Linked DNA regions of Homo sapiens. The protein of the gene in region 1 interacts with the protein of each later gene in a biochemical or structural test. Each region holds a gene or a part of one and is shown in the gene's direction. Other genes may lie near its edges. The genes, in order: UBE2D2, RNF111, UBE4B, UBE3C, NEDD4, SIAH2 and UBR5.

Region 1 (4,122 bases):
TGTTAAGAGACTTAATCATCCATGCCCATTCACCCAATAATTCTAGTTTCATTTATTTATACTAAGAAAACAATCCCAAATGCTGAAAAAACTTTGTATACAAGTACATTTGTGACATTGTGATTTAGTTCTGAAAATTGGAGGTTACTTACAGTAGAGGAAAAAATAGATCGGTTCCAGCACATGCATTTAAAAGAGTATTGACCCTGGCCAGGCATAGTGGTTCATGCCTGTAATCCCAGAACTTTATGAGGCTGAGATGGGCAGATGACTTGAGACCAGGAGTTCGAGACCAGCTTGGCCAACATGGCAAAACCCCATCTTTACTAAAAATACAAAAAATTAGCCAGGTGTGATGGTGCGTGCCTGTAGTCCCAACTACTCAGGAGGCTGAGGCGGGAGAATCACTTGAACCCGGGAGACGGAGGTTGCAGTGAGTCAAGATGGTACCATTGCACTCTAGCCTGGGTGACAGAGGGAGACTTTGTCTCCAAAAAAAAAAAAGTATTGATCTTTACAAATATTGTGAAAATAGGAAAATACTGTGCTTGAGAAAAGCAGAAAAAAGAAAAAAGGCATATACACTGTAACAAGAGTTACATATAAAAGTATGTTGAGTGTCCAGAAATAGACAAGCAATGTTAGTTTTGGTATTTGTGTGGTGAAATGTGGTGTGTGATTTTTTTTTTTTTTTTTTTTTTTGAGAGGGAGTTTCGCTCTTGTTGCCCAGGCTGGAGTGCAATGGTGTGATCTTGACTGACTGCAACCTCCGCCTCCCGGGTTCAAGCAATTCTCCTGCCTCAGCCTCCCAAGTAGCTGGGATTACAGGCACCCACCACCACGCCTGGCTAATTTTTGTATTTTTAGTAGAAATTATCTGCTTATAATTTACCATTTGAACCATTAAGTAGAAATTATCTGCTTATAATTTACCATTTGTTTAATGCATGTATTTAGACAGGAAGCAACATAGTTTCATGGTAAAGAACATAGATTCTAGATCCAATTGCCTGTGTTCAGATCTCAGATCCACCTCTTATTAAATGAGGCTAGAGACACATTGGCCCCTGTATTCCTCAGTTTTTTCATCTGTAGAAAAGGAACAATAATACATATTTCATTGTTGTTACGAAGATTAAAGAAGCAAAAACAGACAGTTAACTGGTTCCTTGTAAGTACTCCAAAAACTGGGGATAAAGGCACAGTTGTCAAAAGTGTTGGGTATTTGTCATGTTATCACTTGGATGTCAAGACTCAATCTTAAAAAAAAATTATTATTATTATTATTTGTTTTTTTTTGAGAAGGAGTTTCACTTTTGTTGCCCAGGCTGGAGTGCAGTGGCGCAATCTCGGCTCACCACAACCTCCACCTCCCGGGTTCAAGCCATTCTCCTGCCTCAGCCTTCTGAGCAGCTGGGATTATAGGGCATGTACCACCACGCCCAGATAATTTTGTATTTTTAGTAGAGACGGAGTTTCTCCATGTTGGTCAGGCTGGTCTCGAACTCCCAACCTCAGGTGATCCGCCCGCCTCAGCCTCCCAAAGTGCTGGGATTACAGGTGTGAGCCACTGCTCCTGGCCACAAATTAATTTTTTAAAGCAAACAAAACTCTGAGACATTAATTTAAAATTTTTGGAGTCCCAGGCAGAAATAAAAACAGGATGCCAGAGAACCACATTTTTTTAAAGTTATTACAACTTTAATGAAATAGTTTTTTAGAGAAGTGTCCCCTTTTCTTTTGGTAGGCCCCCTTACAATTCAAGAGCTACTTGAGAAAGTGTTTGTGGACCTGTGCCTGGCCTGGTGAGGGTCCCATTGGTTGCACTTCCTTCACCAAATAGCAATAGAGATGTAAATCTAGTAATGGGACCAAGATAAGTAGAATTGTGTGAGAGGTGTGTGTTTGGTGGGGTGAGGTGTTGGAGACACAAGATAGCTGAAATTATTGCCATACCTCTTTTTGTTCTTCCCCTTGCCTAGCGTTGATTTTTTTTCAGCTATTCCAAATGATAAGGACTGTTACAAGTCTGATTTGTTAGGTTCTCTCTATCTGGATAGCTATCCTTTAAAATAGTTGCAGTGCCATTTTGTTGAATTTGATTGTATTAACTGTCTCAGATTTAAGGTTTTAATGAGTCCCTTTTTGTAAATTGAATGTATGGGCAAGTAGTTCTATGAAATGCCTTAATCCTGTATATGATATTATTCCTTTAACATATAGTCTGTCTTCAAGGACAGAAATTTTGACCCAGTATTCACTCTACTTTGAAGGTCCGTGATGGGGACCTAAATATTTAAAAAACAAAAACAAAAACACTGAAAAAAACTGAAGGGAAGCAGATAAGTGTGCCATAAAGCCATTTGATTATATGTTTTTAGAAGTGAAAGTAACTGTTGCTGTAACACTAGTGAAAAAGTAATACTGGCCAGGCGCAGTGGCTCATGACTGTAATCCACTTTGAGAGGCCAAGGAAGGTGGATCACTTGAGGTCAGGAGTTTAAGAACAGCCTGGCCAACATAGTGAAACCTGATTTCTACCAATAATACAAAAATTAGCAGGGCAGGGTGGTGTGTGTCTATAGTCCCAACTACTCGGGAGGCTGAGGCACAAGAATCACTTGAACCTGGGAGGGAGAGGTTGCAGTGAGCCAACATCACACCACTGTGCTCCAGCCTGGGCAACAGAGCAAGAGTCTGTCTCAAAAAAAAAAAAAAAGTAATACTGATGAAGAATATATATAGGTAAAAGTTCAGTGAAGAGACTATACAGGTTATAGAAATAAGAGTTACTATCTTTACAGAAGAAGGTATAGTATATGTATCAGTCCATTCTTGCACTGCTATAAAGAAATACCTGAGACTGGATAATTTATAAAGAAAAGGGTTTTGCCAGGTGCGGTGGCTCACTCTTGTAATCCCAGCACTTTGGGAGGCCGAGATGCGCAGATCACTGAGGTCGGGAGTTTGAGACCAGCCTGACCAACATGGAGAAACCCCATCTCTACCAAAAATACAAAAATTAGCCTGGCTTGGTGGTGCATGCCTGTAATCCCAGCTACTTGGGAGGCTGAGGCGGGAGAATCGCTTGAACCCGGGAGGCGGAGGTTGCAGGAAGCTGGGATCGCGCCATTGCACTCCAGCCTGGGCAACAAGAGTGAAACTCCGTCTCAAAAAAAAAGGAGGTTTAATTGGCTCACAGTTCTGTGGGCTATACAGAAAGCATGGCAGCATCTGCTTCTGCGGAGTCCTCGGGAGCTTTTACTCATGGCAGAAGGCAAAGGGGGAGCCACCTGTCTCACATGGCAGTAGCAGGACCAAGAGAGAGATGGGGGAGGTGCCACACACTGTTAAACAGCCAGATCTCATGAGAACTCTATCACAAGAACAGCACCAAAGGGGTCGTGCTAAACCATTCATGAAGGATACACCCCCATAATCCAGTCGCCTCCCACCAGGCCCCACCTCCAACGTTGGGGATTACAGTTGAACATGAGATTTGTGTGGGGACACAGATCCAAACCATATCAGTATATTAGAAACCAAAATGAATTCTTCATGAAATCAAGAAGCTAAGTAGTGTACTAAAAATCTTTTCACAAGGTCCAGATAGCCAGTACTCTCCTTTCCTGGAAAGAAAGAAAAGCCCTTTCTTTAAAACCTGTCCTTTAAAGTTGACTTATTAGAATATTTAGAAGAATAAGTTAAAGGAACATTCAAAAATTTCTAACTTCCCTGTTGTCATTTCCAGGAAATACATGAAGTCTTTCCTAATTGATGTTAGAATGTTCTATGCTTGAAGAGGGCTTCAGGTGATGACACCTGACAATAGGAAAATGTTTTTGGAATGCCAGCTGCCAGAATTGTGGGTAACAGGAATGAAGAGTCAGAAAACATCTCTCCTGATTTTTTAAAAAAACTTTTCATATACTCTTAAGGCAAGGAAATAGCATTTTTGTTACCAAACTGAATAGGGCATGCCAACTATTTCTTTACTTCTCAGAAGCCCTTGATCTCTATAGGATAGATTTGGTAGGAATATGAGCGAATCCTTTCCCTGCTGAATTTATGTGTTGGGAGTAAAATGGGCTGAGAGTTATTATCTCTTGGTACAGAACACCT
Region 2 (4,122 bases), on another chromosome or scaffold:
ACAGTCAGTGCGCCACTATCCTGGCTAATTTTTGTATTTTTAGTAGAGATGGGGTTTCACCATGTTGGCCAGGCTGATCTCGAACTCCTGGCCTCCAGTGATCCGCCCGCCTTGGCCTCCCAAAGTGGTGGGATTACAGACATGAGCCACCGCGCCCAGCTTGTATTTAATTTTTGAGGATCTGCTAGACCGCTTCCCAAAGTAGCTTGTATCATTTTACATTTCCATCAGCAATATATGAGGGTTCCAATGTTTTTTTTTTATGCATCCTCTCTAACACTTGTTATTACCTGTGTTCTTTATTACAGCCATCCTGTTTGGCCCCATTCAACTCTTAGATCACATGTACCTGTGTTTTATCATTGTGACTTCTGTGTTCTTGCCTTTAATTAAAGTGATCCTTGTCTGACTGGCTGCCTTCTGTAATTTGCTCATTGCCATGCTCATGTTCACTCATCTTTGTATTCCTGGTTTATCACTGATCCTGCTGAACTACAGATAGCGCGTGATGGCTGATCTTGGATACAGCACTGCCTGTGCTTGTGAATAAGAATAAAAGAAGATAGTGGTTTTGATAGCTTTCTGTAGGAATAGGTCATTCTATGCCTTAATTATTGTCATTTGTTCTGATAGTAAAGTTATATACTATAGTAACATGGGAGACCTGTAAGATTATATATTTCTGTAACCCATTTGTAGAGAGGGAAAATACTTGCTTACTAAACAGCTGTTGTACTCGCTTTTTAGGAACTGGTTTCAAAATGTATTTTATGGGCAAAACAAATCTGTGGTGTCAGAAGTTACAATAGTGGTTAACAGTTTGGTGGGCTGTAGTAATGGGAAGAAGATTTCTAGGGTGCTGGTTATGTTGTTTATCTGTGTGCCAGTTACATAGAGGTGTTCATTTTTTTAGTGTTCATTCATCTATAAACTTAGAATATGTGTGTATGCTATACTTAATAAAAACTTGTTAAAAATATGTTAACATTGTTTATTCATGTTTTGCACTAGTAAAGCTCTTCATTTGTCACATTTACTGCCTTTCTGATTAATATATTTCATTTTGAGTCATGATATTTACTATTACATTATTTTCATATGTACATTGCATTGATGTAAATGCTTTAAATTCAGATCTCTTTTTGGCAGCTCGTAATTTAAGATGTTGAATGATTTAGATAGATTAGCTGTACAAAGTTTGATTTTATGTTCTGCTGTATTGTTTATTTAACTGAATGATCTTCAGCAGCCCACAGTCTTGGCTCTAATCTTTTTGTATTTAAAACTGAAATGCAGTAGTTGTGTCTACTATCAGGAGAATTCAGATTCTCATTAGAGAATTAATAGAGTAGTATGAAGGAAAAAAAATAGAAAAGAGAAGCTTATATTCATTAGCTCATTATTAATAATATCAATCTAATGTAGTAACCATCTAGATGTACAGAAACATTTAATAATAACCACTTAAAAATGTCATACCAGGAGTAAAACATGTTGACTAATTAGTCTTTTGAATTCGAATCCTTTTATTTATATTTCACTGAAATAGGTTTTGAAGTAATTGTTTGATTTGACCAAATATGTTTTGTTGCTGAAGGTAGTGAGATATGCAATAAGATCAGTTTTTGGTTAATAGAAGTTTTTAAGTAGGCTTATGCTCTATATCTACTGTATTTCTAAAAATTGGATGCATGAGTAGAGTGACCAGAGAAAAACGTTTTATAAGAATAGTAAAATAATTCATAACAGACATTTTGTGTACTGATGAGGAAAAGACAGTTCTGCCTTTATAAGGGATCTTCTTGGTGGAATTTGAGAACTCTTCAATTAAATAGTATAATAAAACACATTAAAAATCTTTTAAATATCTAATTTTGTCTTCTAGGCTTTCCTTAAAGTTTCCCATGTCTCAATGGACTCCTGAATATAACGAGCTCTACACCTTAAAAGTGGATATGAAGAGTGAGATTCCTTCTGATGCACCAAAGACACAGGAGAGTCTGAAAGGGATCCTTTTGCATCCAGAGCCCATTGGGGCAGCCAAAAGTTTTCCTGCAGGAGTTGAGATGATTAATAGTAAAGTGGGGAATGAATTCTCTCACCTGTGTGATGATTCTCAAAAGCAAGAGAAGGAAATGAATGGTAACCAGCAAGAACAAGAAAAAAGTCTCGTTGTGAGGAAAAAACGCAAAAGCCAGCAGGCTGGCCCTTCGTATGTGCAGAATTGTGTTAAAGAAAACCAGGGAATATTAGGACTGAGGCAACACCTAGGGACACCAAGTGATGAAGATAATGATTCCTCTTTTAGTGATTGTCTTTCTTCTCCTTCATCTAGTCTGCATTTTGGAGATTCTGATACTGTGACTTCAGATGAGGATAAAGAAGTCTCTGTAAGACATTCCCAGACCATTTTGAATGCTAAAAGTAGAAGCCATAGTGCACGGTCTCATAAGTGGCCTCGGACTGAGACAGAATCTGTATCGGGATTGTTAATGAAAAGACCCTGTTTACATGGCAGTTCGTTACGGAGACTTCCATGCAGAAAGAGATTTGTAAAAAATAATTCCTCACAGAGGACACAGAAACAAAAAGAGAGGATATTAATGCAGAGGAAGAAACGAGAAGTGTTAGCTCGAAGAAAATATGCCTTGCTACCTAGTTCTAGTAGTTCCAGTGAGAATGACCTCAGCAGTGAATCCTCTTCTAGCTCATCAACTGAAGGAGAAGAAGATTTGTTTGTTTCTGCCAGTGAAAACCACCAAAACAATCCAGCTGTTCCCTCAGGTAAAAATGTTTAAGCTGAGTAAAACATGGAACCTATTGCATTGCATTTGTGCTTAATTTTTTGTTTGTGTCTTACTGATTTTATTTAAAGGGACTATCAGGTTCTATTAACTTTTATTTTTAAGTCATATAAATTACCAATTGCAGTATTAAACCATGACTCTAATGCTAAGATAAAAATTTAAAAAATTTCTAGTGACAAAAATAAGTCAGAGTTTTTTGGGAGAATAACCCTTCATTACTTTTTTTTTTCTGAAACAGAGTCTCACTTTGTCACCCAGGCTGGAGTGCAGTGGCGCAATCTCGGCTCACTGCAACCTCCGCCTCCTGGGTTCAAGCAATTCTCCTGCGTCAGCCTCCCAAGTAGCCAGGATTACAGGTGCCCACCACCATGCCCAGCTAATTTTTGTATTTTTAGTGGAGACGGGGTTTCACTATGTTGAACAGGCTAGTCTTGAGCTCCTGATCTCAAATTATCTGCCCACCTCAGCCTCCCAAAGTGATGGGATTACAGGCATGAGCCACTGTACCTGGCCTCATTTATTACATTTTATACATATTAGATTATATTTTATGTATGTTCTTCATTTATGGTACACATTTTTTTCCTTGTGTTTCTTTAATATGCTTGACTGTTATGAATACTTTTTCAGCTACCTGTATGATGGATTCAGCCATAGTAAGAACAGTTCTAGTCACTAAAAAAGACTGGTTAATTTTTTTTCCTTTGTTTTTTTGAGGCAGCATCTGGCTTTGTTGCTCAGGCTGGAGTATAGTGATGCAGTCTTGGTTCACTGCAACCTTCACCTCCTGGGCTGAAGCCGTCCTCCCACGTCAGCGCCTCAAGTAGCTGGGACTACAGGCCCACACCACCACACCTGGCTTATTTTTGTATTTTTTGTAGAGATGGGTTTTGCCAAGTTGCCCAGGTTGGTCTTGAACTCCTTAGCTCAGGCGATCCACCTGCCTTGGGCTCTCAATATTTTTTCTTTAAGTACTATATTCTTGTTGTTTGCTGTTATCATGTTCTTTATAGCTGAAAAGTAATTTCAAGTAACTTTTATTCTAATACTAGGACCCAGAGACTTTTAGTCTCGACAGTGCATATGATACATCAATTAAAATTGGGTAGGGACTATTTCCTATCAGTGCTCTTGAGCCTGTGTGCTCTTGCTCATGCGTGCTGACTCTCTCTCTCTCTCTCACACACACAGTAAATGTGATATTTAAGTAGAATAAGTTTATTTGCAGACAGTCCTGAAATGTATGTTCCATGTATACAAACCATCCTAAGATAATGCATCACTTTTACAGTTGTAATTTAAAGGGAGTTGTTGA
Region 3 (4,122 bases), on another chromosome or scaffold:
TTTTTTGTATTTTTTTGTGTTTTTAGTAGAGACGGGGTTTCACTGTGTTAGCCAGGATGGTCTCGATTTCCTGACCTTGTGATCTGCCCGCCTCGGCCTCCCAAAGTGCTGGGATTACAGGCGTGAGCCACCGTGACCGGCCAGAGATAGTTTTTTTATTTTTTTTTATTTTTTATTTATTTTATTTTATTTTTTTTGAGACGGAGCCTCGCTCTGTTGCCCAGGCTAGAGTGCAGTGGCGCGATCTCAGCTCACTGCAAAGCTCCGCTTCCCGGGTTCACGCCATTCTCCTGCCTCAGCCTCCCGAGTAGCTGGGACTACAGGCGCCCGCCACCACGCCCGGCTAATTTTTTGTGTTTTTAGTAGAGACGGGGTTTCACCGTGTTAGCCCAGGATGGTCTCAATCTCCTGACCTCGTGATCCGCCCGCCTCGGCCTTCCAAAGTGCTGGGATTACAGGTGTGAGCCACCGCGCCCGGCCGAGGTAGTTTTTTAGTAGTCCTTTACTCCTATAAATTACTTTTTTTTTTTTTTTTTGATGATCTGTTAATAGTCCTTGGTTTAGAGGCTTTTGCATACTTGAGTTTTCACCAAAAAATTCTTTTCAAACCAGTGAGGCATTACAGACCAGTGAAGATATTGTATAATCTAAAATGTGTCTCTTCACTTTCATCAGTCCTTGAGGAAGGTGTAACTTTTTTTTGTGACCATATGAGGAACACATGTAACCTTTGTGGAAGAAATAGAATAAACTTTTTTCAAGGTCAACAGAATATTAAAATAAATGAAAAAAATTAAATTCACTAATACAGGATCAATGTAAAATTATCTTCAACAAATTAGTTGTCCAGAACACAAAGGGCTGGTTCAATAACTGTTAATTTTACTCTCAGCAGAACCTAGAACAAATAATATTCGTTTGTTTTTAATTTAAAAAATCTTTTTTTTTTTTGTAGAGACGGGGGTCTTGCCATGTTTCCCAGGATGGTCTCAAACTCCTGACCTCAAGCGATCCTCCCACTTCAGCCTCCCAAAGTGGGAGCCAGACAAATAGTTATTTTGGGAAAAATATCTTTGAAGTTTTTCTTTTTAATTCAATTAAAAATTTTTGAGGTTAGGTAAGCAGTTCTCATGAGACATTTCCAAAGCTTTTGCCTTTGTATTGTTACTCTGTAGTTGAAAACTTGTGTCAGATATGGTAGGTGACATTGATTTGATTACAAAATAATACACTTATATTATTGAAACTTCAAGCTTATATTTCAGGGTTAAAACAGGCAAGGCGGTGATCTTTTAATCTAATTTAGGAAATTAGGTAAGGCAGAGTTTCATATTTTAACAAAATGAAAATGTATGATTATACAGTCCGTGAAAAAGGCTGGTATAACCAGACTGGTAGCTTTAGGAACTTTTAAATTATGTGCACTTTTTGGTCCCTGTCATAGATCACCTAGAATTCTTGTGCTTTTTAAATTTTTTTGTGAGACAGAGTTTCGCTCTTGTTGCCCAGGCTGGAGTGCAATGGCGCGATCTTGGCTCATTGCAACCTCTGCCTCCCGGGTTCAAGCGATTTTCCTGCGTCAGCCTCCCAAGTAGCTGGAATTACAGGCATGCGCCACCATACCCGGCTAATTTTGTATTTTTAGTAGCGACGGGGTTTCTCCATGTTGGTCAGGCTGGTCTTGAACTCCTGACCTCAGGTGATCTGCCTGCCTCGGCCTCCCAAAGTGCTGGGATTACAGGCATGAGCCACTGTGCCCGGTAGTCTTGTGCTTTTAAGTAGAGTACTTTAACTTCACTGTTGTTTGTTATTTATATAGTGTATTACAGTGAGTTCATTGCCCTATAGTTCACTGCCTATAGGTTCATTGCAGAACCATGACTAAGTTCATTCTCTTCAGGAACCTACATTCCAAGGCATCATTATTTACATTATATTAATTCTATAATCTACTCATGTGTTGTTTTTCGTATCTCAAGGTGGTGCTGTGAGTAGGTGGTGTGTTTATTTTTGAGATAGGGTCTGGCTCTATCGCCCAGTCTGGAATGCAATGGCATGATCTTGGCTCACTGCAACCTCTGCCTCCTGGGCTCAAGTGATCCTCCCACCTCAGCCTCCCAAGCTGAGACTACAGGCTCATGCCACCACACCTGGCCAATTTTTGTATTTTTTTCTAGAGACAGGGTTTCACCATGTTGCCCAGGCTGGTCTCAAACTCCTGGGCTCAAGTGATCCACCCGCCTTGGCCTCCCAAAGTGCTGAGATTACAGGCATGAGCCACCATGCCCAGCCAAGTAGGTGTTTTAAACTGTTTTTCGACAATGGTAATGAGATTGCATAAGTGATTTTTCTCTCCTAACTCTTCTTTATGACCTAGTTCATCTGCAAGATGGTTGGCTGGGATTCCGGGTGTGGTCAAGATTTTAGAAAGTGTTGGCCGGGCGCAGTGGCCCACGCCTGTAATCCCAGCGCTTTGGGAGGCCGAGGTGGGTGGATCACCTGAGTTCGGGAGTTCAAGACCAGCCTGTCCAACATGGAGAAACCCCATCTCTACTAAAAATACAAAATTAGCTGGGCGTGGTGGCACATGCCTGTGATCCGAGGTACTCAGGAGGCTGAGGCAGGAGAATTGCTTGAACCCGGGAGGCGGAGGTTGCAGTGGGCCGAGATCACACCACTACACTCCAGCCTGGGCAACAAGAGTGAAACTCCATCTCAAAAAAAAAAAAAAAAGATTTAGAAAGTGTTTTAAGTATTCCTTTCCAAATGCAGAATATGTGACCTTGGACTTTTTAGCAAGGTTCTGTAAGTGGAAGAAAATTGACATTAAACAACAGCCTTAGGAGCCTCTTCTGTGCCAGGCACTTGATAGCTGTTTCTCATTAGAGAAAACATTATAATCAAGCAGGTACTGTTTTCCTAATTTTACAAGTCAGGAAACTGGGATTCAGGTTAAGTAACTTGTCCATAGCGACCTGGCTTAGAAGTGATGGGGTTGGAATTCAAACCCAGTGCTCTGGACTCGAAAGTCCTCTTTATTCTACTGCTCAACAACTGACATAAATTCACCACAGCTTTTGTATCAACATCCTACGTAACACTGACCCACTCTGTTTTGATATACATAGTTTTTCTGTAGAAGTGCTGTTTTGCATGAATGCATTCATGATGTGATCAGGGCTTTTGGTACTGGTCCTCCCACTCCCAATTTTTTTTTTAAATGCCTGTCGCGTTAAAAATTTGGGAGTTGGGGCCGGGCGCGGTGGCTCACGCCTGTAATCCCAGCACTTCGGGAGGTCGAGGCAGGCGGATCACGTGAAACCCCGTCTCTACTAAAAATACAAAAATTTGCTGGGTGTGATGGTACGCACCTGTAATCCCAGCTACTCAGGAGGCTGAAGTAGGAGAATTGCTTAAACTCAGGAGACAGAGGTTGCAGTGAGCCGAGATTGCGCCACTGTACTCTAGCCTGGGAGGCAGAGCAAGACTCCATCAAAAAAACAAACAAACAAAAAAACACACACACAGAAAAACAAACAAAAAAGCAATTATAATTAAATTTGAGTAGAGGAGATAGATAGGAATCCAACAGTTATAGAATAGTGCCAGGTGCTATGGTGGAGGTATGCACAACTCACTTAAGAAACATGAGAAGGGACCCCGGGAGAGGCAGGGTCTTAGTGAAGACTTTCAAGAAAAAGTGATACTTAACGCTGAGTAGCAGTTGCCCTGGGAACTGGCTCGAAATTGGGGAGCTCAAGAAACAGCAGCAAGTAGTGTGACTGGAGAGGTGGGTTTTACCTCGGGTGTGTGGCAGGTACCTGATCTTGGAGGGCTGTCAGAAACGTTTAGGAGTTTGAACTTTCTTTTTGTTGTTGTTTTTTGGGACAGAATCTCTCTCTGTTGCCCAGGCTGGAGTGAAGTGGCATGATCTCGGCTCACTGCAGCCTCTGGTTCCCGGGTTCAAGTGATTCTCCTGCCTCAGCCTCCCAAGTAGCTGGGATTACAGGTGCATGCCACCATGCCCTGCTGATTTTTTTTTTTTTTTGTATTTTTAGTAAAGATGGGGTTTTACCATGTTGACTAGGCTGGTTTCAAACTCCTGACCTCAAGTGGCCCACC
Region 4 (4,122 bases), on another chromosome or scaffold:
AAAATACAGTGTGTGACAGATGACTTTTAATGGTCTGCTTATAGGTAGAGAGCACCCTGTAAGCAGCCCGTTTTTCTTGGCTTGGCCTCATTTGTATTTTGAGAGATCTTTGTTTTCTGTGAGGTCACAAAGCCTTAAGTGCTCTCTCTGCCCCAGGCCTGGGGCTGTTTTCTCTAAGGAGCACTGATTCTTTTTGATGAGAAATGGAATTTTAACAAAATGTAAATGTTAGAAATTGTACTTCAAGTGTATGTTAGTAAGTCGACAGTCTTATCTGCCACGTGCCAGAACATTGAATTTTTCTTTTTCTGTAAATGTGGCCTTCCAGAACCACCTGCAGCTCCTTTTATGACTAATCACATACATATTTTTTAATGCCGTTGAACATTTCTGAAGTCATGGAATCACTGGGTCACATAGTAGTTATATATTTCACTTTAGAAGAAACTACCAAACTTAGGACAGCAGCATAGGAGAGGCGCAGTTCCTCCATATCCTGAACCCTTGGTATTGACATTTGTCAAAACCCAGCCATTCTGATGGGTGTGTAGCTGTATTTTATTGTGATTGGAATTTGTATTTCCTGGATTACTAATGATGACGGGTGTTTCTCAGGAGCATACTGGTCACTCAGATGGCTCTTTTTCAAGAGTCTGTTCAAATCTTTTACTTCATTTTTTAAGGTGGGTTGTCTCTTGACAATATGGATATCCTTTTCCCGTCCAAGGCTGTCCCGATAAACCTGGAGCTACATCCTATGTTGTCTCTCACACGAGGCACCGTTCCAGCACTTCTCTCTGTTGCATTATCAGGTTTACCTCTCACATGGGATTATCAGCACACATGCTGCTGACTTTTCCAGGTTGACAAGAGGCTCTCCCACCGCCCGCCGCTGCCCTTTGCGTCCCAGCGGCTTGTTATGTGTAGCCCCGCTCCTCCTGCACTCGTACACCCCTCGAGAGACACCAGTGTGGTGCTGAGGGGAAAGTTGTGAAAAGGGCAAAGACAAAACAAGGTCTGGCTGGGTGTCCTGCCCAGCCTGCCCGCTGGGTCCTCACCCCCTGTCTCTCCTGGGCTTTGCGGCTGTTGAGACAGAAGGCAGCCTGCGGTAAGCGGATAAGCCGTGTAGACACACCCCACCCAGAACCCTGCACGTTATTCCCCTCCTGGCAGGGCAGAAGGCTTTTGTCACATAGAGAAGTTAGTTTCAGTGAGGCATTGAAACAGCCTCCTGGGTCCCTCATTAAAGGTGATGTGTGGTCAGATGGATTCTGTTTTTTTTTTTTTTTAAGAAAAAGGAAAAACAGCTGTAAAATACCTTGTGAAAGCAACAGGAGAAATCTAAAAATAAGTTCGGTGTTAGACAAAGTTTTTGATAGAAAAAAGGATTGGGGTGGGGGGAAAGAGGGAGGAGTGGACTAGAGACAGCCAAGAAGAAACTTTCGGGAGTGGCAGATGTGCTCTGTGTCTTGATTGGTGCGGCCTGCCCGACTGCTTGTGCTGCCCTCTCTAAACGGATAGTTAACCTGCAGTTCTTCTCATAGTAAGAAGGGAAGCCTCAGTCAAAATGAGAGTTGACTTAGGACCAGAAATATATCATTGTTCTATTTGGGGGATATTGCAGGCGTGGAAAGTCTCAAAAGCATCTTTAAGGAGATGAGATGCACTGTTAAAGAGATTCGTATCTGAGTTTAATTAAATGCAGCTTCTTGGTACAATTCATGGATTATAATACTTCTTACAGTGTTTTGTAATCTTTAATTTTTCGTGTTCATTTCTCCACTGTCCATTTTTCTTGTCTGTGAACTTAGTGCCAGCATACCGTTTGGCACATAACGAGAATTCTTTTAAAAACTGTCTGAATGACTGAATGTTAGTTGGATGATTTCCCTGTCTATCTGTAAGATGTCCCTATTTTCAGAGATAATCTTGTACTGGAATAGTTTCTTAACCATTGTCACTGAGAGTAACTTGGGGAAACTGGTGACATTTTGCCATCCTGTAAGTGTGTGAATACTTTTTTCATTTTTACAGGTTGCTGCAAAACTGTAATGATGACAGTTTGAATGTTGCACTTCCAATGAGAATGCTTGAAGTATTTTCGTCTGAGAATACTTACTTGCCTGTTTTACAAGATGCTAGCTATGTGGTGTCAGTGATTGAACAAATTTTGCACTACATGATTCACAATGGTAAGTAGTAGGCAGGATCAGAACTGTGGCTCAGCATCCTGATGGGGAGTGAGCAGAGGCCAGCCTGCTGCTGTGAGCCTGTGCCCTCAGTCTCAATGTCAGAGCGGTACTGGTGTCCCAGACGCCTTGTGCTCCATCCACAGGTGCCCACCAGAGTCCCAGATTCCAAAATCTGTCCTTGGCTCCACCCACTCTGAAAATTCAGAAACATGCTACTCTCTTTGCCTTTTTCTTTTGCTTGGAAGTGAACCAAAATTGACATATGCTTTCATCAGTTGTCCCGTCATCCAAGATTGGTGTCTGCAGTGCAGCTGCCGGTCCTTCACCTGACCAGGAAGGGCTCTTACCACCTCCTGGTCATTCTGAGTGAATGGGAAAGGTAATGCCACCAATGTATGAGTTGAACATCACTCCAAGAGCCTTATGAAAAAGTAAATTTTGTTAAATGATTTTTCTTCCAAGAGTGAGGTCCTTTCACATTAGTTCAGTAGAAGAGAATAGGATATTTAGTTTGAATTTTCTAACTCAGTGCTAAAGTTTTAATACATTGATAATGCTCCTAAAATGACTGCATCGTAGAAGCTATACTGAACTGCATCTGAAACCCTTGAGGACACATTAGTGACACTTTCTGGAGAAAAAGGATGAAATAAACATGATTTTTAAAAATTTTATGAAGTGAGCAGTATAAATCCTAACACAAAAGAACCTTTGGTCTCGACATCCTCATAGGTAGAAACCCAAGCACTTCAGGACTCCTGGGCTCGAGAAGTATTTGTCAGCATTAAAAATGTGCGTGAGACTAGTTGTGAAGGGAGGTCTGGAGAGCCGTGGCTGCAGACAGAATTATAAGCAGCTGTGCTTTCCTTCACCTGAAGTCATAGTCTGGGTTACATCTAACGGACTTGAAGTCTGGACCACTTGGTCCTCTTGGTCCTCTGTCAAAACTACAGAAATTAAACGCATACTCATTTCAGCCTTGCTGCTTGGCGTGTTACTATTTTTTAGACTCCTTAGTTTGTTGAAAACTTAGGGAAACAGTATTCCGAGTTAATTAAAAGTAAACTGAAAGTTGTGGAATTTGATCTTTTTAAAAACTAATAATTAAAAGTGGTTCATTGTGTTAGTTGACATATATACTGTTTTAAGACTAAGCGTTTGAGAATTTGTATTTGTTTTCTAAAATTGTAAGGAAGATATTTAAGAAATATGCATTATTTGAAATGTGTCCCAATATACGAAATGCTTAAAAATCTTACACAGAAACTGCCGCTTCTAGCATCTTCTGTGGTACAGCAGTTGTTTACTTTCTAACAGTCGATAAAATTTTAGCCTTTTAAATTATAGTATTACCATTATTTGTATTGTTATTGCACATTCTGTGCCATGAAGCTTTTTAACATTTGCAACAGAACCTTTGTCATGTTGTCAGTCTATTCAGTAAGTACATTGTTAGTTATGTTAGTCACTTTTTTAAAAAAGTCTCTGTGTATTTTTTAAAATTCTTGATGTATTTTTATCTTTTTAGTTTCATAGCAAAAGAGCTTTCAAGCTTTCATATGAGTTTCACTAGTTATCAGTATACACTAGGTTAGACTTGGGGTAGTTACAAAGTAGGTCTAATGATAAAGTACTGAGTATGCATTGTTTGGTGATCTTCACTCAAATACGAAGCTGTGTAGGACTGTTTCAAAAACTAGCCCATGCAGATGGATTGTTTTTAATGTGCTACCAAATACGCTTGTATATGATGAGATACTCAAAAATTGCACCTGAACCTTCTTATTCTATAAAAATGGAGTAAATGATTCTGAAAGAATATATGATTTGGATCATTCTTGATACCCAGAGTTATGTTCACTGCCTCCCACCCAGAGTTCCTATCAGAAGCGTAGGCTGGATATTTTAAGAGGTTCTGAAAGTTGTTTCA
Region 5 (4,122 bases), on another chromosome or scaffold:
AACAAACAAAGGAGGAAGTGTAGTATAATTTATACCAGATTTGCTCTGGTCACTTGAGATTCACAGTAGAGAATAACATGCACTGATCTTTATTGGAGAGCAGTGTGGTGGATGCGGGGACTGGAATTGAGCATCACTTCCCACCTCCTTCCCATGCACCTCCCTGTGATATGGAGGTGGGAAAACTAAACACTGTTTCCCACACTCCATTGAAATTAATGGACTGGATCCAAAGTAGGCTCCCCAGTTAAGTGCACTTACTTGAGATTTGCAGAGTGGAAATGAGGTGGAGCATATTGTTTTGTTTCTTTGGCTTTTTCTGCTGATAAGCACAGTCATGTAAACATCTAAATTTTCTGCGAAAGTATTCCAGTATCTGGTAACTTGCTTTGTACATATTGATAGGAAGTCACCGAAGTAGTGGTGGTAGTGGCTTCCAGACGTCAAGATTGATTATATTCTTGAAGTCATCAGTTCTGGTGATGACTCCTGATCATCTACCTTTCTGACTGGGAGAGGTAGTAGCTTCCTGGATGGGTCAGTTCTGCCATGTTTCTGATCTTCTAGAACTGCAGTCCCCAACTGTTTTGGCACCAGGGACCGGTTTCATGGAAGATAGTTTTTCCATGGACCGGGGATGCGGTCCAGTGGTTTCAGGATGATTCAAGCACATTACATGTATGGTGCACTCTACTTCTATTATGATTACATTGTGATATGTAATGAAGTAATTATACAGCTCACCGTAATGTAGAATTAGTGGGAGCCCTGAGCTTGTTTTCCTGCAACTAGATGGTCCCAAGTGTGGGTGACGGTAATGGGAGACAGGGAGACAGTGACAAATCATCAGGCATTAGATTCTTATAAGGGGTACACAACCTAGATCGCTTGCATGGACAGTTCACAATAGGGTTCATGCTCTTATGAGAATCTAATGCCGCTGCTGATCTGACAGGCAGCAGAGCTCCGGAGGTAATGTGATCGGTGAGGAGTGGCTGTAAATACAGATGAAGCTTTGCTCACTGGCCTGCCACTCACCTCCTGCTGTGTGGCTGGTTCCTAAGGTTGGGGACCCCTGCTCTAGAAGTCCAGCCTAGCACCTACTCTTCCAGCTCTTCCAAAAATTTTGTAAGCATCTAATCCCCTGTATTAGCTTCTTTCTTCTTAAAGCATCTAGAATGATTTCTGTTTCCTATAAGAAAGGCTGACTGAAGCAAGGAAAAGAAGGAAGGAAATAAAGAGGAAAGAGTTCAGAGTCTCCGCTATCGGTATGGAGAGTGCAGTTTGCACATACAGAATAATAGATGCCCCTGGTGGCAGCAGCCACAACAGTGCATAAGTAGCAGGGTAAGAAGGGCATATTCTGATACTTCTGGACCCACTAAGGCTGAGCAGAAACTGACCCTTACTCAGTCTGGGAACAAACTTCCCAAACCTTTATGTACTACACACAAAGGAGGAGAAGCATAGGTTAAGCAGCAGCTGTATTAGTAATTTCTCCCAATCTTTCATGTATTGTTTTTGCCATTAGTGCTTTTTTGCAACTCTTTAATTCCAGGATCATTGTAAAGTATTTTTCATGGAGCAGGGACTAAAGAAGTGAATAAATATAGTGTATTTTTAAAATAATTTATTTTTAAATTATGTATTTACTTTTGAGACGGAGTCTTGCTCTGTCACACAGGCTGGAGTGCAATGGCGTGATCTCAGCTCACTGCACCCTCTGCCTACCAGGTTCCAGCGATTTTCCTGCATCACCCTCCAGGGTAGCTGGGATTATAGGCACGCACCACCACGCCCAGCTAATTTTTGTATTTTTGGTAGAGATGGGGTTTTACCATGTTGGCCAGGCTGGTCTCGAACTCCTGACCTCAGATGATCCGCCTGCCTCGGCCTTCCAAAGTGCTGGGATTATAGGCGTGAGGCACCGCGCCCGTCCTATTTTAAAATTATTTTAAACCATCAGAAAAGTTGAAAGTACAACACAAAGAGCTCCAGTATTCTTCTCATACAGATTCTGCAACTGTTAACCTTTTCACTGCAATTGTTCCATCACCTTTTTTTGCCATTTTCATTAATCTTTTTCTGAACCACTTGAGAGCAAGCTGCAGACACAATGCCCCATCATCTTTAAATACTCTAGTGTGTATTTTTCTAAAACAAGAATACTTTCCTGCATAACAACCATACCCCCTTCCAAGCTAGGAAATGGACACTGATACAACAATGCCATTCAATCCACAGATACCATCCAAATTTTGATAAATGTTACTAATAATTTCTCTTTTTCCTTTTCTGGTCTAAGAACCTATCTGGGAACATATATTGCTTTTACGTGGCATGTCTTTGCAGTCTCTTCTAATCTGTAACATTTCCTCAGTTTTTCTTTTTTTTTTTTTTTTTTTAATTTTTTTTTTTATTATACTCTAAGTTTTAGTGTACATGTGCACATTGCGCAGGTTAGTTACATATGTATACATGTGCCATGCTGGTGTGCTGCACCCACTAACGTGTCATCTAGCATTAGGTATATCTCCCAATGCTATCCCTCCCCCCTCCCCCGACCCCACCACAGTCCCCAGAGTGTGATATTCCCCTTCCTGTGTCCAAGTGATCTCATTGTTCAATTCCCACCTATGAGTGAGAATATGCGGTGTTTGGTTTTTTGTTCTTGCGATAGTTTACTGAGAATGATGGTTTCCAATTTCATCCATGTCCCTACAAAGGACATGAACTCATCATTTTTTATGGCTGCATAGTATTCCATGGTGTATATGTGCCACATTTTCTTAATCCAGTCTATCATTGTTGGACATTTGGGTTGGTTCCAAGTCTTTGCTATTGTGAATAGTGCCGCAATAAACATACGTGTGCAATGACTTTCTTCACAGAATTGGAAAAAACTACTTTAAAGTTCATATGGAACCAAAAAAGAGCCCGCATCGCCAAGTCAATCCTAAGCCAAAAGAACAAAGCTGGAGGCATCACACTACCTGACTTCAAACTATACTACAAGGCTACAGTAACCAAAACAGCATGGTACTGGTACCAAAACAGAGATATAGATCAATGGAACAGAACAGAGCCCTCAGAAATAATGCCACATATCTACAACTATCTGATCTTTGACAAACCTGAGAAAAACAAGCAATGGGGAAAGGATTCCCTATTTAATAAATGGTGCTGGGAAAACTGGCTAGCCATATGTAGAAAGCTGAAACTGGATCCCTTCCTTACACCTTATACAAAAATCAATTCAAGATGGATTAAAGATTTAAACGTTAGACCTAAAACCATAAAAACCCTAGAAGAAAACCTAGGCATTACCATTCAGGACATAGGCGTGGGCAAGGACTTCATGTCCAAAACACCAAAAGCAATGGCAACAAAAGCCAAAATTGACAAATGGGATCTAATTAAACTAAAGAGCTTCTGCACAGCAAAAGAAACTACCATCAGAGTGAACAGGCAACCTACAACATGGGAGAAAATTTTCGCAACCTACTCATCTGACAAAGGGCTAATATCCAGAATCTACAATGAACTCAAACAAATTTACAAGAAAAAAACAAACAACCCCATCAAAAAGTGGGCGAAGGACATGAACAGACACTTCTCAAAAGAAGACATTTATGCAGCCAAAAAACACATGAAGAAATGCTCATCATCACTGGCCATCAGAGAAATGCAAATCAAAACCACTATGAGATATCATCTCACACCAGTTAGAATGGCAATCATTAAAAAGTCAGGAAACAACAGGTGCTGGAGAGGATGTGGAGAAATAGGAACACTTTTACACTGTTGGTGGGACTGTAAACTAGTTCAACCATTGTGGAAGTCAGTGTGGCGATTCCTCAGGGATCTAGAACTAGAAATACCATTTGACCCAGCCATCCCATTACTGGGTATATACCCAAAGGACTATAAATCATGCTGCTATAAAGACACATGCACAGTTTTTCTTATCCTAGACAGTTTTAAGAAGGACAGGCCTTGGCCGGGCGCGGTGGCTCACGCCTGTAATCCCAGCACTTTGGGAGGCCGAGACGGGTGGATCACGAGGTCGGGAGATTGAGACTATCCTGGCTAACATGGTGAAACCCCATCTCCACTAAAAAT
Region 6 (4,122 bases), on another chromosome or scaffold:
GGGTGCTTGGAAATCAGATTAGAAGTGCTGTTGAGGGCTTTTGCTTCACCATATGGAATGGAATATGGGGGGTATTGGGGTGGTTGGAAGGTTGCAATGGGGGATCACCTGGAAGCAGGAAGCACAAGCCGATTAGCCAAAAATACTTTCAAAAATTTCTTCCTAACCCCCAGAATTCTCCTAACACAAAACTATTTACTTTGGAAGTTGTCCCTGAAGTCCTCACTACTGCCTGACATGGGCAAGGTTGGCCCATAAAAGCACAGAGTGAACTGGCAAGGACCAGAGTCCACATACATTAACTCCGGGGCTCAAGATTTTAAAGAACAAAATTGATAATACACCTTTCGTTGTAGTTTACTTTTTGTATAAAGCAGAAGCATTAGAATACTATATGGCAGTACTTAAGCTTAATGGTAATTCCACACATAACTGGCCAAAGATTTTTCACAGGTCACCATGACCTGGAACTAGAGTAAATAGTTATCAGTGAAAGTTGAGCCTTAGTATAACCAGAACAGAGGCTTACCAAAAGTTACAGCAGGTCTGGCCTATAAAATACCAGCCCAAGATTGGGATAGACTCTCCCGTTCTGTGGTAGAGCTGTTTTTTGAAGCCCCATTAAAAAGTACTGTATACATGAATATAGTGAGGCTTCACTGTAAAATGTCTTAAGCATCAGATTTTGCTTCTGACAAAATTTGTGAGACATGGCCGTTCTTATTCAAACCCATAAGGTCCTCACTCCTTGAAAGGGGCACGTAGCAGATACACATTTGCTAAACTGTGTACCAGTGCCAGCATTTGGAGCCACTGTGTATTGCTGGCGAGTTTTTCAGGACATGATCATACACAGGGTATTTGAATGTGGTTCCACGCTGGACATCCTGAAAAGGAAAATAAGAAAGTCTTCCTGATCAAATGTATCTTTATTTTAAGATTCGGGGTATCCTTTTAAGGCTGATGAAGGATACTGAAATGCTCTACAGAATTTCATCAGCTTTGCCCTAGATTGCAAAACTGTTGTTTTCCTCATTTCCAGTTTGGTAAAGATTTTATGTAATGATTTTTAGACTGTGTAGCATCTATGGAATAAAAGGGTTTTCCTGTTCTCAGTTTTTGCCCACAGGTGATATACAGATGGATGAAAAATATTCCTGGTCAGGTGTGGTGGCTCATGCCTGTAATCCCAGCATTTTGGGAGGCTGAGGAGGGCAGATCATGAGGTCAGGAGTTCAAGACCAGCCTGACCACCATGGTGAAACCCCGTCTCTACTAAAAATACAAAATTTGTGCCAGGCACAGTGGCTCACACCTGTAATCCCAACACTTGGGAGGCCGAGGCGGGCAGATCACCTGAGATTGGGAGTTCGAGACCAGCCTGACCAACATGGAGTAACCCTGTCTCTACTAAAAATAAAAAATTAGCCAGGCGTGGTGGCGCATGCCTGTAATCCCAGCTACTTGGGAGGCTGAGAGGCAGGAGAATCACTTGAACCCAGGAGGCGGAGGTTGTGGTGAGCTGAGATCGCACCATTGCACTCCAGCCTGGGCAACAAGAGTGAAACTCCGTCTCAAAAAATAAAAAAAATAAATAAATAAATACAAAAATTAGCTGGGCATGGTGGCTCGTGTCTATACTCCCAGCTACTCAGAGGGCTGAGGTGGGAGGATCGCTTGAGCCCAGGAGGTCCAGGCTGCAGTGAGCTGAGATCTTGCCAATACCCTCCAGCCTGGGTGACAGAGTGAGACCCTGTCTCAAAAAAAAAAAAAAAAAAAAAAAAAAGGGAAGAAAAGAAAAAGAAAAATATTCTTTTGCTAATGCGCCGGCCTATGCACTGCTTTAAAATTTTGAATCAGCAAAGATAGTATCTTTGGGTCCCTTTTACCCCCAGGATCCCTCTAACTCTGGCAGTTTTGAGGGCAGCCCCTCATCTGGCCTGGTCCAAATCCCAACTCCAGCCCCACTGTGACTGGCTGGTGACCTCTCCAAGCCTCAAGGTTGCCTTGAGGACCAAACACACTAATAATTCATGCAAAGTGCCTGACACAGCCCAGGCACTAAATAAATGTGCTCAGTTAGAAGCTAACAGAAACTAAATGGCCGATGTCTGAGGTCAGGTTCATGCATAAACTTGAAAAAAAGGAATCATTCCTATTTTTTCCCATAGATTTTCCCAATGAGCTTCCCTTCCCTACTCTTAATCATATAGCATTTTCATAGAGCTGTGTAAGTTGGCCCTTGTATTGGTTTTTCAGTGATGAGGATTTTTTTTCATTTCTTTAAATTTTTTGAGAGGGAAAACTGGTTAGATTAAGCAGCATTTTAAATTATATGTATTATATTTTGTGTATTTTTACATATTATGTTTTCTAAAGTTATGATTATTTTTAAATGTAGAACATATAGAAAATAGTATAAAATTAAAATCTCCTATAATCTCCCTCACCTAAAGATAACCACTATACCATTTTGCATACATCCTTGCAAACTTATTTCTACATCGGTGGAGTTTTTCTTTAAAAACAAAAACAAAAACAAAACAAGTGAGATGGTGATATGGTTTGGGTCTATGTCCCCATCAAGTCTCATGTTCAATTGTAATCCCCAATGTTGGAGGTGGGGCCTGGGGCAGGTGGTTGGATCTTGGGGGTGGATTTCTCATGAATGGCTTAGCACTATCCTCTTGGTGCTGTTCTCATGATAGTGAGTCTTATGAGATCTGGTTATTTAAGAAGTGTGAAGCACCTCTCCCACCCTTGCTCCTGCTCTTGCCATGTGAGATGCCTCACTCCCCCTTTGCCTTCCACCATGATTGGAAGCTTTCTGAGGCCTCCCTAGAAGCAGAAGCCACTATGCTTCCTGTACAGCTTGCAGAACCGTGAGCCAATTAAACCTCTTTTCTTTATAACTTACTCAGTCTCAAGTATTTCTTTGTAGCAATTTGAGAATAGAACAATACAGGTGAGGAATCCTATTGTCTACACTGTTTCATAATCTGCTTCTTTATCTAACACATTCTTTATCTAACACATCGTGACTGCTTTTCTACAGTGATAAATATTCTTTAGGATCATATTTAATGGCCACATATTGCAGTTCTATAACAGTACCAGAGTTATTTAATCAGGCTCCTATTTGTGGTCATTTAAATTCTCTTTTCTTACTGAGATTTTTTTTTTAAAGCACTGCTATAACCAAATCTTTGTACACAAAAATATAGTTATTTCCTAAAGTTAAATTCCTTGAAGTTGGATGGTAGAGCCCAAGGGTATATGCAGAAATCTCAGTGTTTTTTTTTTGTTTTTTGTTTCGAGACAGGGTCTAGTTCTGTCATCCAAGCTGGAGTGCAGTGGCATAATCACAGCTCACTGCAGCCTCAACCTCCTGGGCTCAGGGGATCCTCCCACCTTAGCCTCTTGAGTGGCTGGGATTACAGGCACACACCATCAGGCTTGGCTAATGTTTGTATTTTTTGTAGGAACAGGGTTTCACCATGTTGCCCAGGCTGGTCTTGAACACCTGAGCTCAAGTGATTCGGCTTCAGCTTCCTGAAGTGGCAGGATTACAGGCATGAGCCGCCACACCCGGCCTGAGAAATTGAAGCTTTTTGATAGTAGAACCAAATTGTTTTCTCCCTTAGAATGGTTTACAGTTGAATGTCCATTTCTTCCCAGCAGCACCGACATTGGGTGTTACCTTTTGGTTTTCTTAATGCCACAGCCTGCTTTTTCTCCCTGGTGCAGTGTCAGGCCAGAGTTGGCCGCTGCTGACCCCACCAACTTTACATCATACTCACTCTTGCCTTGGAATCTCCTGCAGTTCCAGGCCCTCTCCTTCCCACAACCCATCTGCCTAGCCAGTTCTTGCCTCTGCTCACCCCTCTCGTCTTTCTGAAACTCTCCTAAGTCTACTGGTGGAGACAGATGTGCCAATAGGGCAGAGCCCGTCTGAAGTACTAGGAGCCGAAAGGAGTCCGAAGACCTTGCTGCCATGGTGGCACCAGCTGCATGTTGAAGGTGCGCAGCGGTTTGCCTGTGAAGAAAGAAGGGATGGAAGCTCATAAGGAGGCTGTGTGGGAGGCCAGCAAAGTTGCTTGTGAAGGATGTTGCTTGCCTTGC
Region 7 (4,122 bases), on another chromosome or scaffold:
TGTAATTATGCTTTACTTTATATTGTTCCAGAGTTGGTTAGATTTCTTTGCATGTCATCTTTGTATATCACTTTTTAAAATTGATATATAATTTCTGGTTTATATTGTGTGTATGCTAAGGCTTTCCAGTTGAAGAAAATGGATGGCTAATTAAGTCCTTTCCTGAAAGATGAACTGCTATGTTCTTACTTTTTTAGCTGAAATATCCTCAAGTGAAAAAGAGGAAGATGTATTCATGGGAATGGTTTGCCCATCAGGTACCAACCCTGATGACTCTCCTTTATATGTTTTATGTTGTAATGACACTTGCAGTTTTACATGGACTGGAGCAGAGCACATTAACCAGGTAAGTTATTTCTACATTTTCCTGTATTAATCATATCTTTGTGTCTTTTTTCGCTATGACTATCACTAGACTTACAGTTTTCAGCTTTGGAATTAAGTCTGATATGAAGAAAGTTGATTTAATTCCTAAGTAAATGAGGCAAAAGAGCTGATTGCTCAGTTAAATATGGCATACCATGAAAATTGGAAATTTTCACTGGGTAGTATAATCTGATCCACAAATCTTGATACAGATTTTATAACTACAATGCCTTTTTGGGGATGATACAAATTATTTTTTTCTACTGGTAATATTTCTATTTGTATATCATAAACTGTATATTTGCTGTAGCCCTTTATAAGTTCTAGTTTTCCAAAGCACATTAATTTTGTTTGTTGAGATTGAATTGTTCTAGAAAATACCAGAAATAATTATTATGATGAGATATATGCATACTTATAATTATTCCTTTAAAAGTACACTCTTAATTTTAGGATATTTTTGAGTGTCGAACTTGTGGCTTGCTGGAGTCACTGTGTTGTTGTACGGAATGTGCAAGGGTTTGTCATAAAGGTCATGATTGCAAGTGAGTACAATTCTAGTTTTCTTTAGTTTAATATTATAAGCTGTTTAGATTTATATTGCTGTATGGAAATAATCTGTACTAAGTCATGTTTTACTTCAGAAAGCATGAGGTTACTTACGTTTCCCTTGTTTAAGTCAGTTTATGTATAATAGTGTGATTCTTGATTTAAAGTATACTGTGAAATGTTTGGTTTCTTTGCTAGTTCAAACATTGCCCTCCTTAAATAAAAGTAGGTGATTATACATTGTAACTAGGATCAGATTAGTCTTTTGAGAAGTATATCTACAGAATGTTCCTGAGTGTATTATGCAGCGGAGGTCTCAGGTCCCCTGTAGTGGGGTATACTAGGAGAAAATTGCCATAGGCCTAGAGGGAATCATGGTGAATGTTTAGACTGTGTCTTAAACTAAATGCAACAGTCTTTCATTCAGCAACAGTTACCACAGCTAGTTCTGTTGGTTTTCAGAGACCTGAGAAGCAATGAAATACCTAGCACTAACATCTGTGGTGTTTTAGGATTATGGATAGGGACTTCAGTATAAATGGCTACAAATGTTATAATAGAGAATTGGACTGTAAAAACCATCTACCGTACCATTAAGTAATTGTATAGGACAAATGAAAAATTTTAATAGATATTAAAAGAATTCTGGTTGGTATTTTTTGTTTTCCTTATTTTAAGTACCTAAAGGTGTGATAATCTGTTGTTATTGATTGTTTTCCAAGTGTACTAGATGCCAGGGTGGTGGTGAATAGTCCTGACAGTGTTCACATCCCTATCAGAAGCAAGAAATATCTGCCCATAGGGTTACAGGGTTCATTAGGTCATATAGGAGGACCACTTGAACAGGACTGGGAATTAGGGAAGAGATTCCAAAAGTGATTGTACCTTAGAGTACCTCTTCTCATAGGAATTCTGTGTTGCTTTATAGATGTCATTACTACCAAGTAATCCTTCTTGTTATATAAGCTTTGACAGTTATACTTTGCATTTAGAAATTAACAAGGGCTCTCTCTGGTTTCAGTGAGTTATACCTTCATAATGTCAACATAAACCTTTGTATGTTTAAAAAATTTCAGTTTTTGTACTTGTGTATAAATTCTCTATAGACTCAAACGGACATCACCAACAGCCTACTGTGATTGTTGGGAGAAATGTAAATGTAAAACTCTTATTGCTGGACAGAAATCTGCTCGTCTTGATCTACTTTATCGCCTGCTCACTGCTACTAATCTGGTTACTCTGCCAAACAGCAGGCAAGTGGGATTTTTAGAACATACAGTAAGTTAAATCAAAAGAGCGCAGCACAGCTGAGTAGCTTTTCAGCCTCCCTCCTCACGACAACATTCTGTTTTGCAGGGGAGAGCACCTCTTACTATTCTTAGTACAGACAGTCGCAAGGCAGACGGTGGAGCATTGTCAATACAGGCCACCTCGAATCAGGGAAGATCGTAACCGAAAAACAGCCAGTCCTGAAGGTGAGTTAATTAGACATTTATGACACTTGTGGGAAGCAATATGTTTTATTTTTGTTTTGGTCACTATTTCTTTTTCATTTTAGATTCAGATATGCCAGATCATGATTTAGAGCCTCCAAGATTTGCCCAGCTTGCATTGGAGCGTGTTCTACAGGACTGGAATGCCTTGAAATCTATGATTATGTTTGGGTCGCAGGAGAATAAAGACCCGTACGTATTCATTAAAACCTTTTTAGATTTATGTATTTCCTACGTTAGTGTAGACCTTTTACAGTTCATTCTGTCTTTCGTTTCTCCTCAAGTCTTAGTGCCAGCAGTAGAATAGGCCATCTTTTGCCAGAAGAGCAAGTATACCTCAATCAGCAAAGTGGCACAATTCGGCTGGACTGTTTCACTCATTGCCTTATAGTTAAGTGTACAGCAGATATTTTGGTAAGTTCTTTGAATGTGTATTACAAGTACATGAAAAGTATGTTTTTCAAGTACTCTTCTTTGCTGTGAAACTAGAAAAGAATTTAAACCTTAAGATCCAGTGCGAATGAGGTTATGGTAATAACACACTCAGATAGGGATGGGGTGGCATTGCATCGTTCCTTTCTCTGGAAAACATAAAACTATCAGTGCCCTCAGAACCTGTCATAAATAAATAATTTACGATGTGAGAAAAATAAAGGCATGTCACAGAATAATGTAAAATTTAAAAACAGAAAAATATCAGCCTAATACTAGTGTAATCTTGAATCAAATTATAGCCTGACCACTTACTGGAATATGATGCAGCAATTTAAAAATAAATCGTATTGTAAATAACGTAAAAAAAAAAACCAAACAACCAAACTGTGAAAATTGGGTGTTCTCTGTAGCTAACATTTATACAAGAAGCTGCACACAGAAAAGAGACTAGAAAGTAATAATGGTTCCATGAGGGAGATGGGATTATGAATTTATTCATATAAATATTTGAGTCTGCTTTGCTGTTTTGGAAAGTGCCCCAGACTGAGTTTATGTTTTCTTCTTCTGATTTCATATATTTGGTATTGTTCTTCTAAATATTAGTTGATATACCAAGGACTGTGGGACAAAAAATAAGAAATCGTACATTTAGGACTCACTGTATGTCAAGCACATTGGCAGGTATATTTCATAAACTGACCTTGTAAATGTTTTGGTTAAATTTGTTTTGAGATTTTATTATAAAATGTTAATACTTAAAAAATGTTAGAACTTATAACTTTATGAATGTCTAAACATCTTATGAAGTATCTTAACATTAATAGAGTGAATATAATTTTTTAAAGCTTTTAGATACTCTACTAGGTACACTAGTGAAAGAACTCCAAAACAAATATACACCTGGACGTAGAGAAGAAGCTATTGCTGTGACAATGAGGTTTCTACGTTCAGTGGCAAGAGTTTTTGTTATTCTGAGTGTGGAAATGGCTTCATCCAAAAAGAAAAAGTAAGGCATCCTTTTTGATTTTGGTTTAGATACCATTTTCACTCTGTTTTTGTGATAGTGATTTATGTATATGAAAAGATAGATTGCTGATATTTCTCTTTTTGTTCTAGCAACTTTATTCCACAGCCAATTGGAAAATGCAAGCGTGTATTCCAAGCATTGCTACCTTACGCTGTGGAAGAATTGTGCAACGTAGCAGAGTCACTGATTGTTCCTGTCAGAATGGGGATTGCTCGTCCAACTGCACCATTTACCCTGGCTAGTACTAGCATA

What was found.
Region 2: the proteins of UBE2D2 (region 1) and RNF111 form a complex in vitro, tested with the Homo sapiens proteins (6 studies listed by BioGRID).
Region 3: the proteins of UBE2D2 (region 1) and UBE4B form a complex in vitro, tested with the Homo sapiens proteins (6 studies listed by BioGRID and IntAct, with this or other methods).
Region 4: the proteins of UBE2D2 (region 1) and UBE3C form a complex in vitro, tested with the Homo sapiens proteins (4 studies listed by BioGRID).
Region 5: the proteins of UBE2D2 (region 1) and NEDD4 form a complex in vitro, tested with the Homo sapiens proteins (19 studies listed by BioGRID, with this or other methods).
Region 6: the proteins of UBE2D2 (region 1) and SIAH2 form a complex in vitro, tested with the Homo sapiens proteins (4 studies listed by BioGRID).
Region 7: the proteins of UBE2D2 (region 1) and UBR5 form a complex in vitro, tested with the Homo sapiens proteins (12 studies listed by BioGRID, with this or other methods).

Annotation. Positions count from the first base shown.
Region 1 is NC_000005.10:139,616,692-139,620,813, forward strand, and holds part of UBE2D2 (ubiquitin-conjugating enzyme E2 D2), read left to right. Parts: intron 1-4,122.
Region 2 is NC_000015.10:59,028,919-59,033,040, forward strand, and holds part of RNF111 (E3 ubiquitin-protein ligase Arkadia), read left to right. Parts: intron 1-1,885; coding exon of another isoform or gene 1,886-1,904; coding exon 1,905-2,784; intron 2,785-4,122. UniProt on the Homo sapiens protein: E3 ubiquitin-protein ligase. Required for mesoderm patterning during embryonic development. Acts as an enhancer of the transcriptional responses of the SMAD2/SMAD3 effectors, which are activated downstream of BMP.
Region 3 is NC_000001.11:10,035,564-10,039,685, forward strand, and holds part of UBE4B (ubiquitin conjugation factor E4 B), read left to right. Parts: intron 1-4,122. UniProt on the Homo sapiens protein: Ubiquitin-protein ligase that probably functions as an E3 ligase in conjunction with specific E1 and E2 ligases. May also function as an E4 ligase mediating the assembly of polyubiquitin chains on substrates ubiquitinated by another E3 ubiquitin ligase.
Region 4 is NC_000007.14:157,176,656-157,180,777, forward strand, and holds part of UBE3C (ubiquitin-protein ligase E3C), read left to right. Parts: intron 1-2,034; coding exon 2,035-2,192; intron 2,193-4,122. UniProt on the Homo sapiens protein: E3 ubiquitin-protein ligase that specifically catalyzes 'Lys-29'- and 'Lys-48'-linked polyubiquitin chains.
Region 5 is NC_000015.10:55,986,771-55,990,892, reverse strand, and holds part of NEDD4 (E3 ubiquitin-protein ligase NEDD4), read left to right. Parts: intron 1-4,122. UniProt on the Homo sapiens protein: E3 ubiquitin-protein ligase which accepts ubiquitin from an E2 ubiquitin-conjugating enzyme in the form of a thioester and then directly transfers the ubiquitin to targeted substrates. Specifically ubiquitinates 'Lys-63' in target proteins.
Region 6 is NC_000003.12:150,752,987-150,757,108, reverse strand, and holds part of SIAH2 (E3 ubiquitin-protein ligase SIAH2), read left to right. Parts: intron 1-4,122. UniProt on the Homo sapiens protein: E3 ubiquitin-protein ligase that mediates ubiquitination and subsequent proteasomal degradation of target proteins.
Region 7 is NC_000008.11:102,293,682-102,297,803, reverse strand, and holds part of UBR5 (E3 ubiquitin-protein ligase UBR5), read left to right. Parts: intron 1-197; coding exon 198-346; intron 347-819; coding exon 820-911; intron 912-2,021; coding exon 2,022-2,168; intron 2,169-2,271; coding exon 2,272-2,390; intron 2,391-2,473; coding exon 2,474-2,600; intron 2,601-2,692; coding exon 2,693-2,822; intron 2,823-3,688; coding exon 3,689-3,849; intron 3,850-3,959; coding exon 3,960-4,122. UniProt on the Homo sapiens protein: E3 ubiquitin-protein ligase involved in different protein quality control pathways in the cytoplasm and nucleus. Mainly acts as a ubiquitin chain elongator that extends pre-ubiquitinated substrates.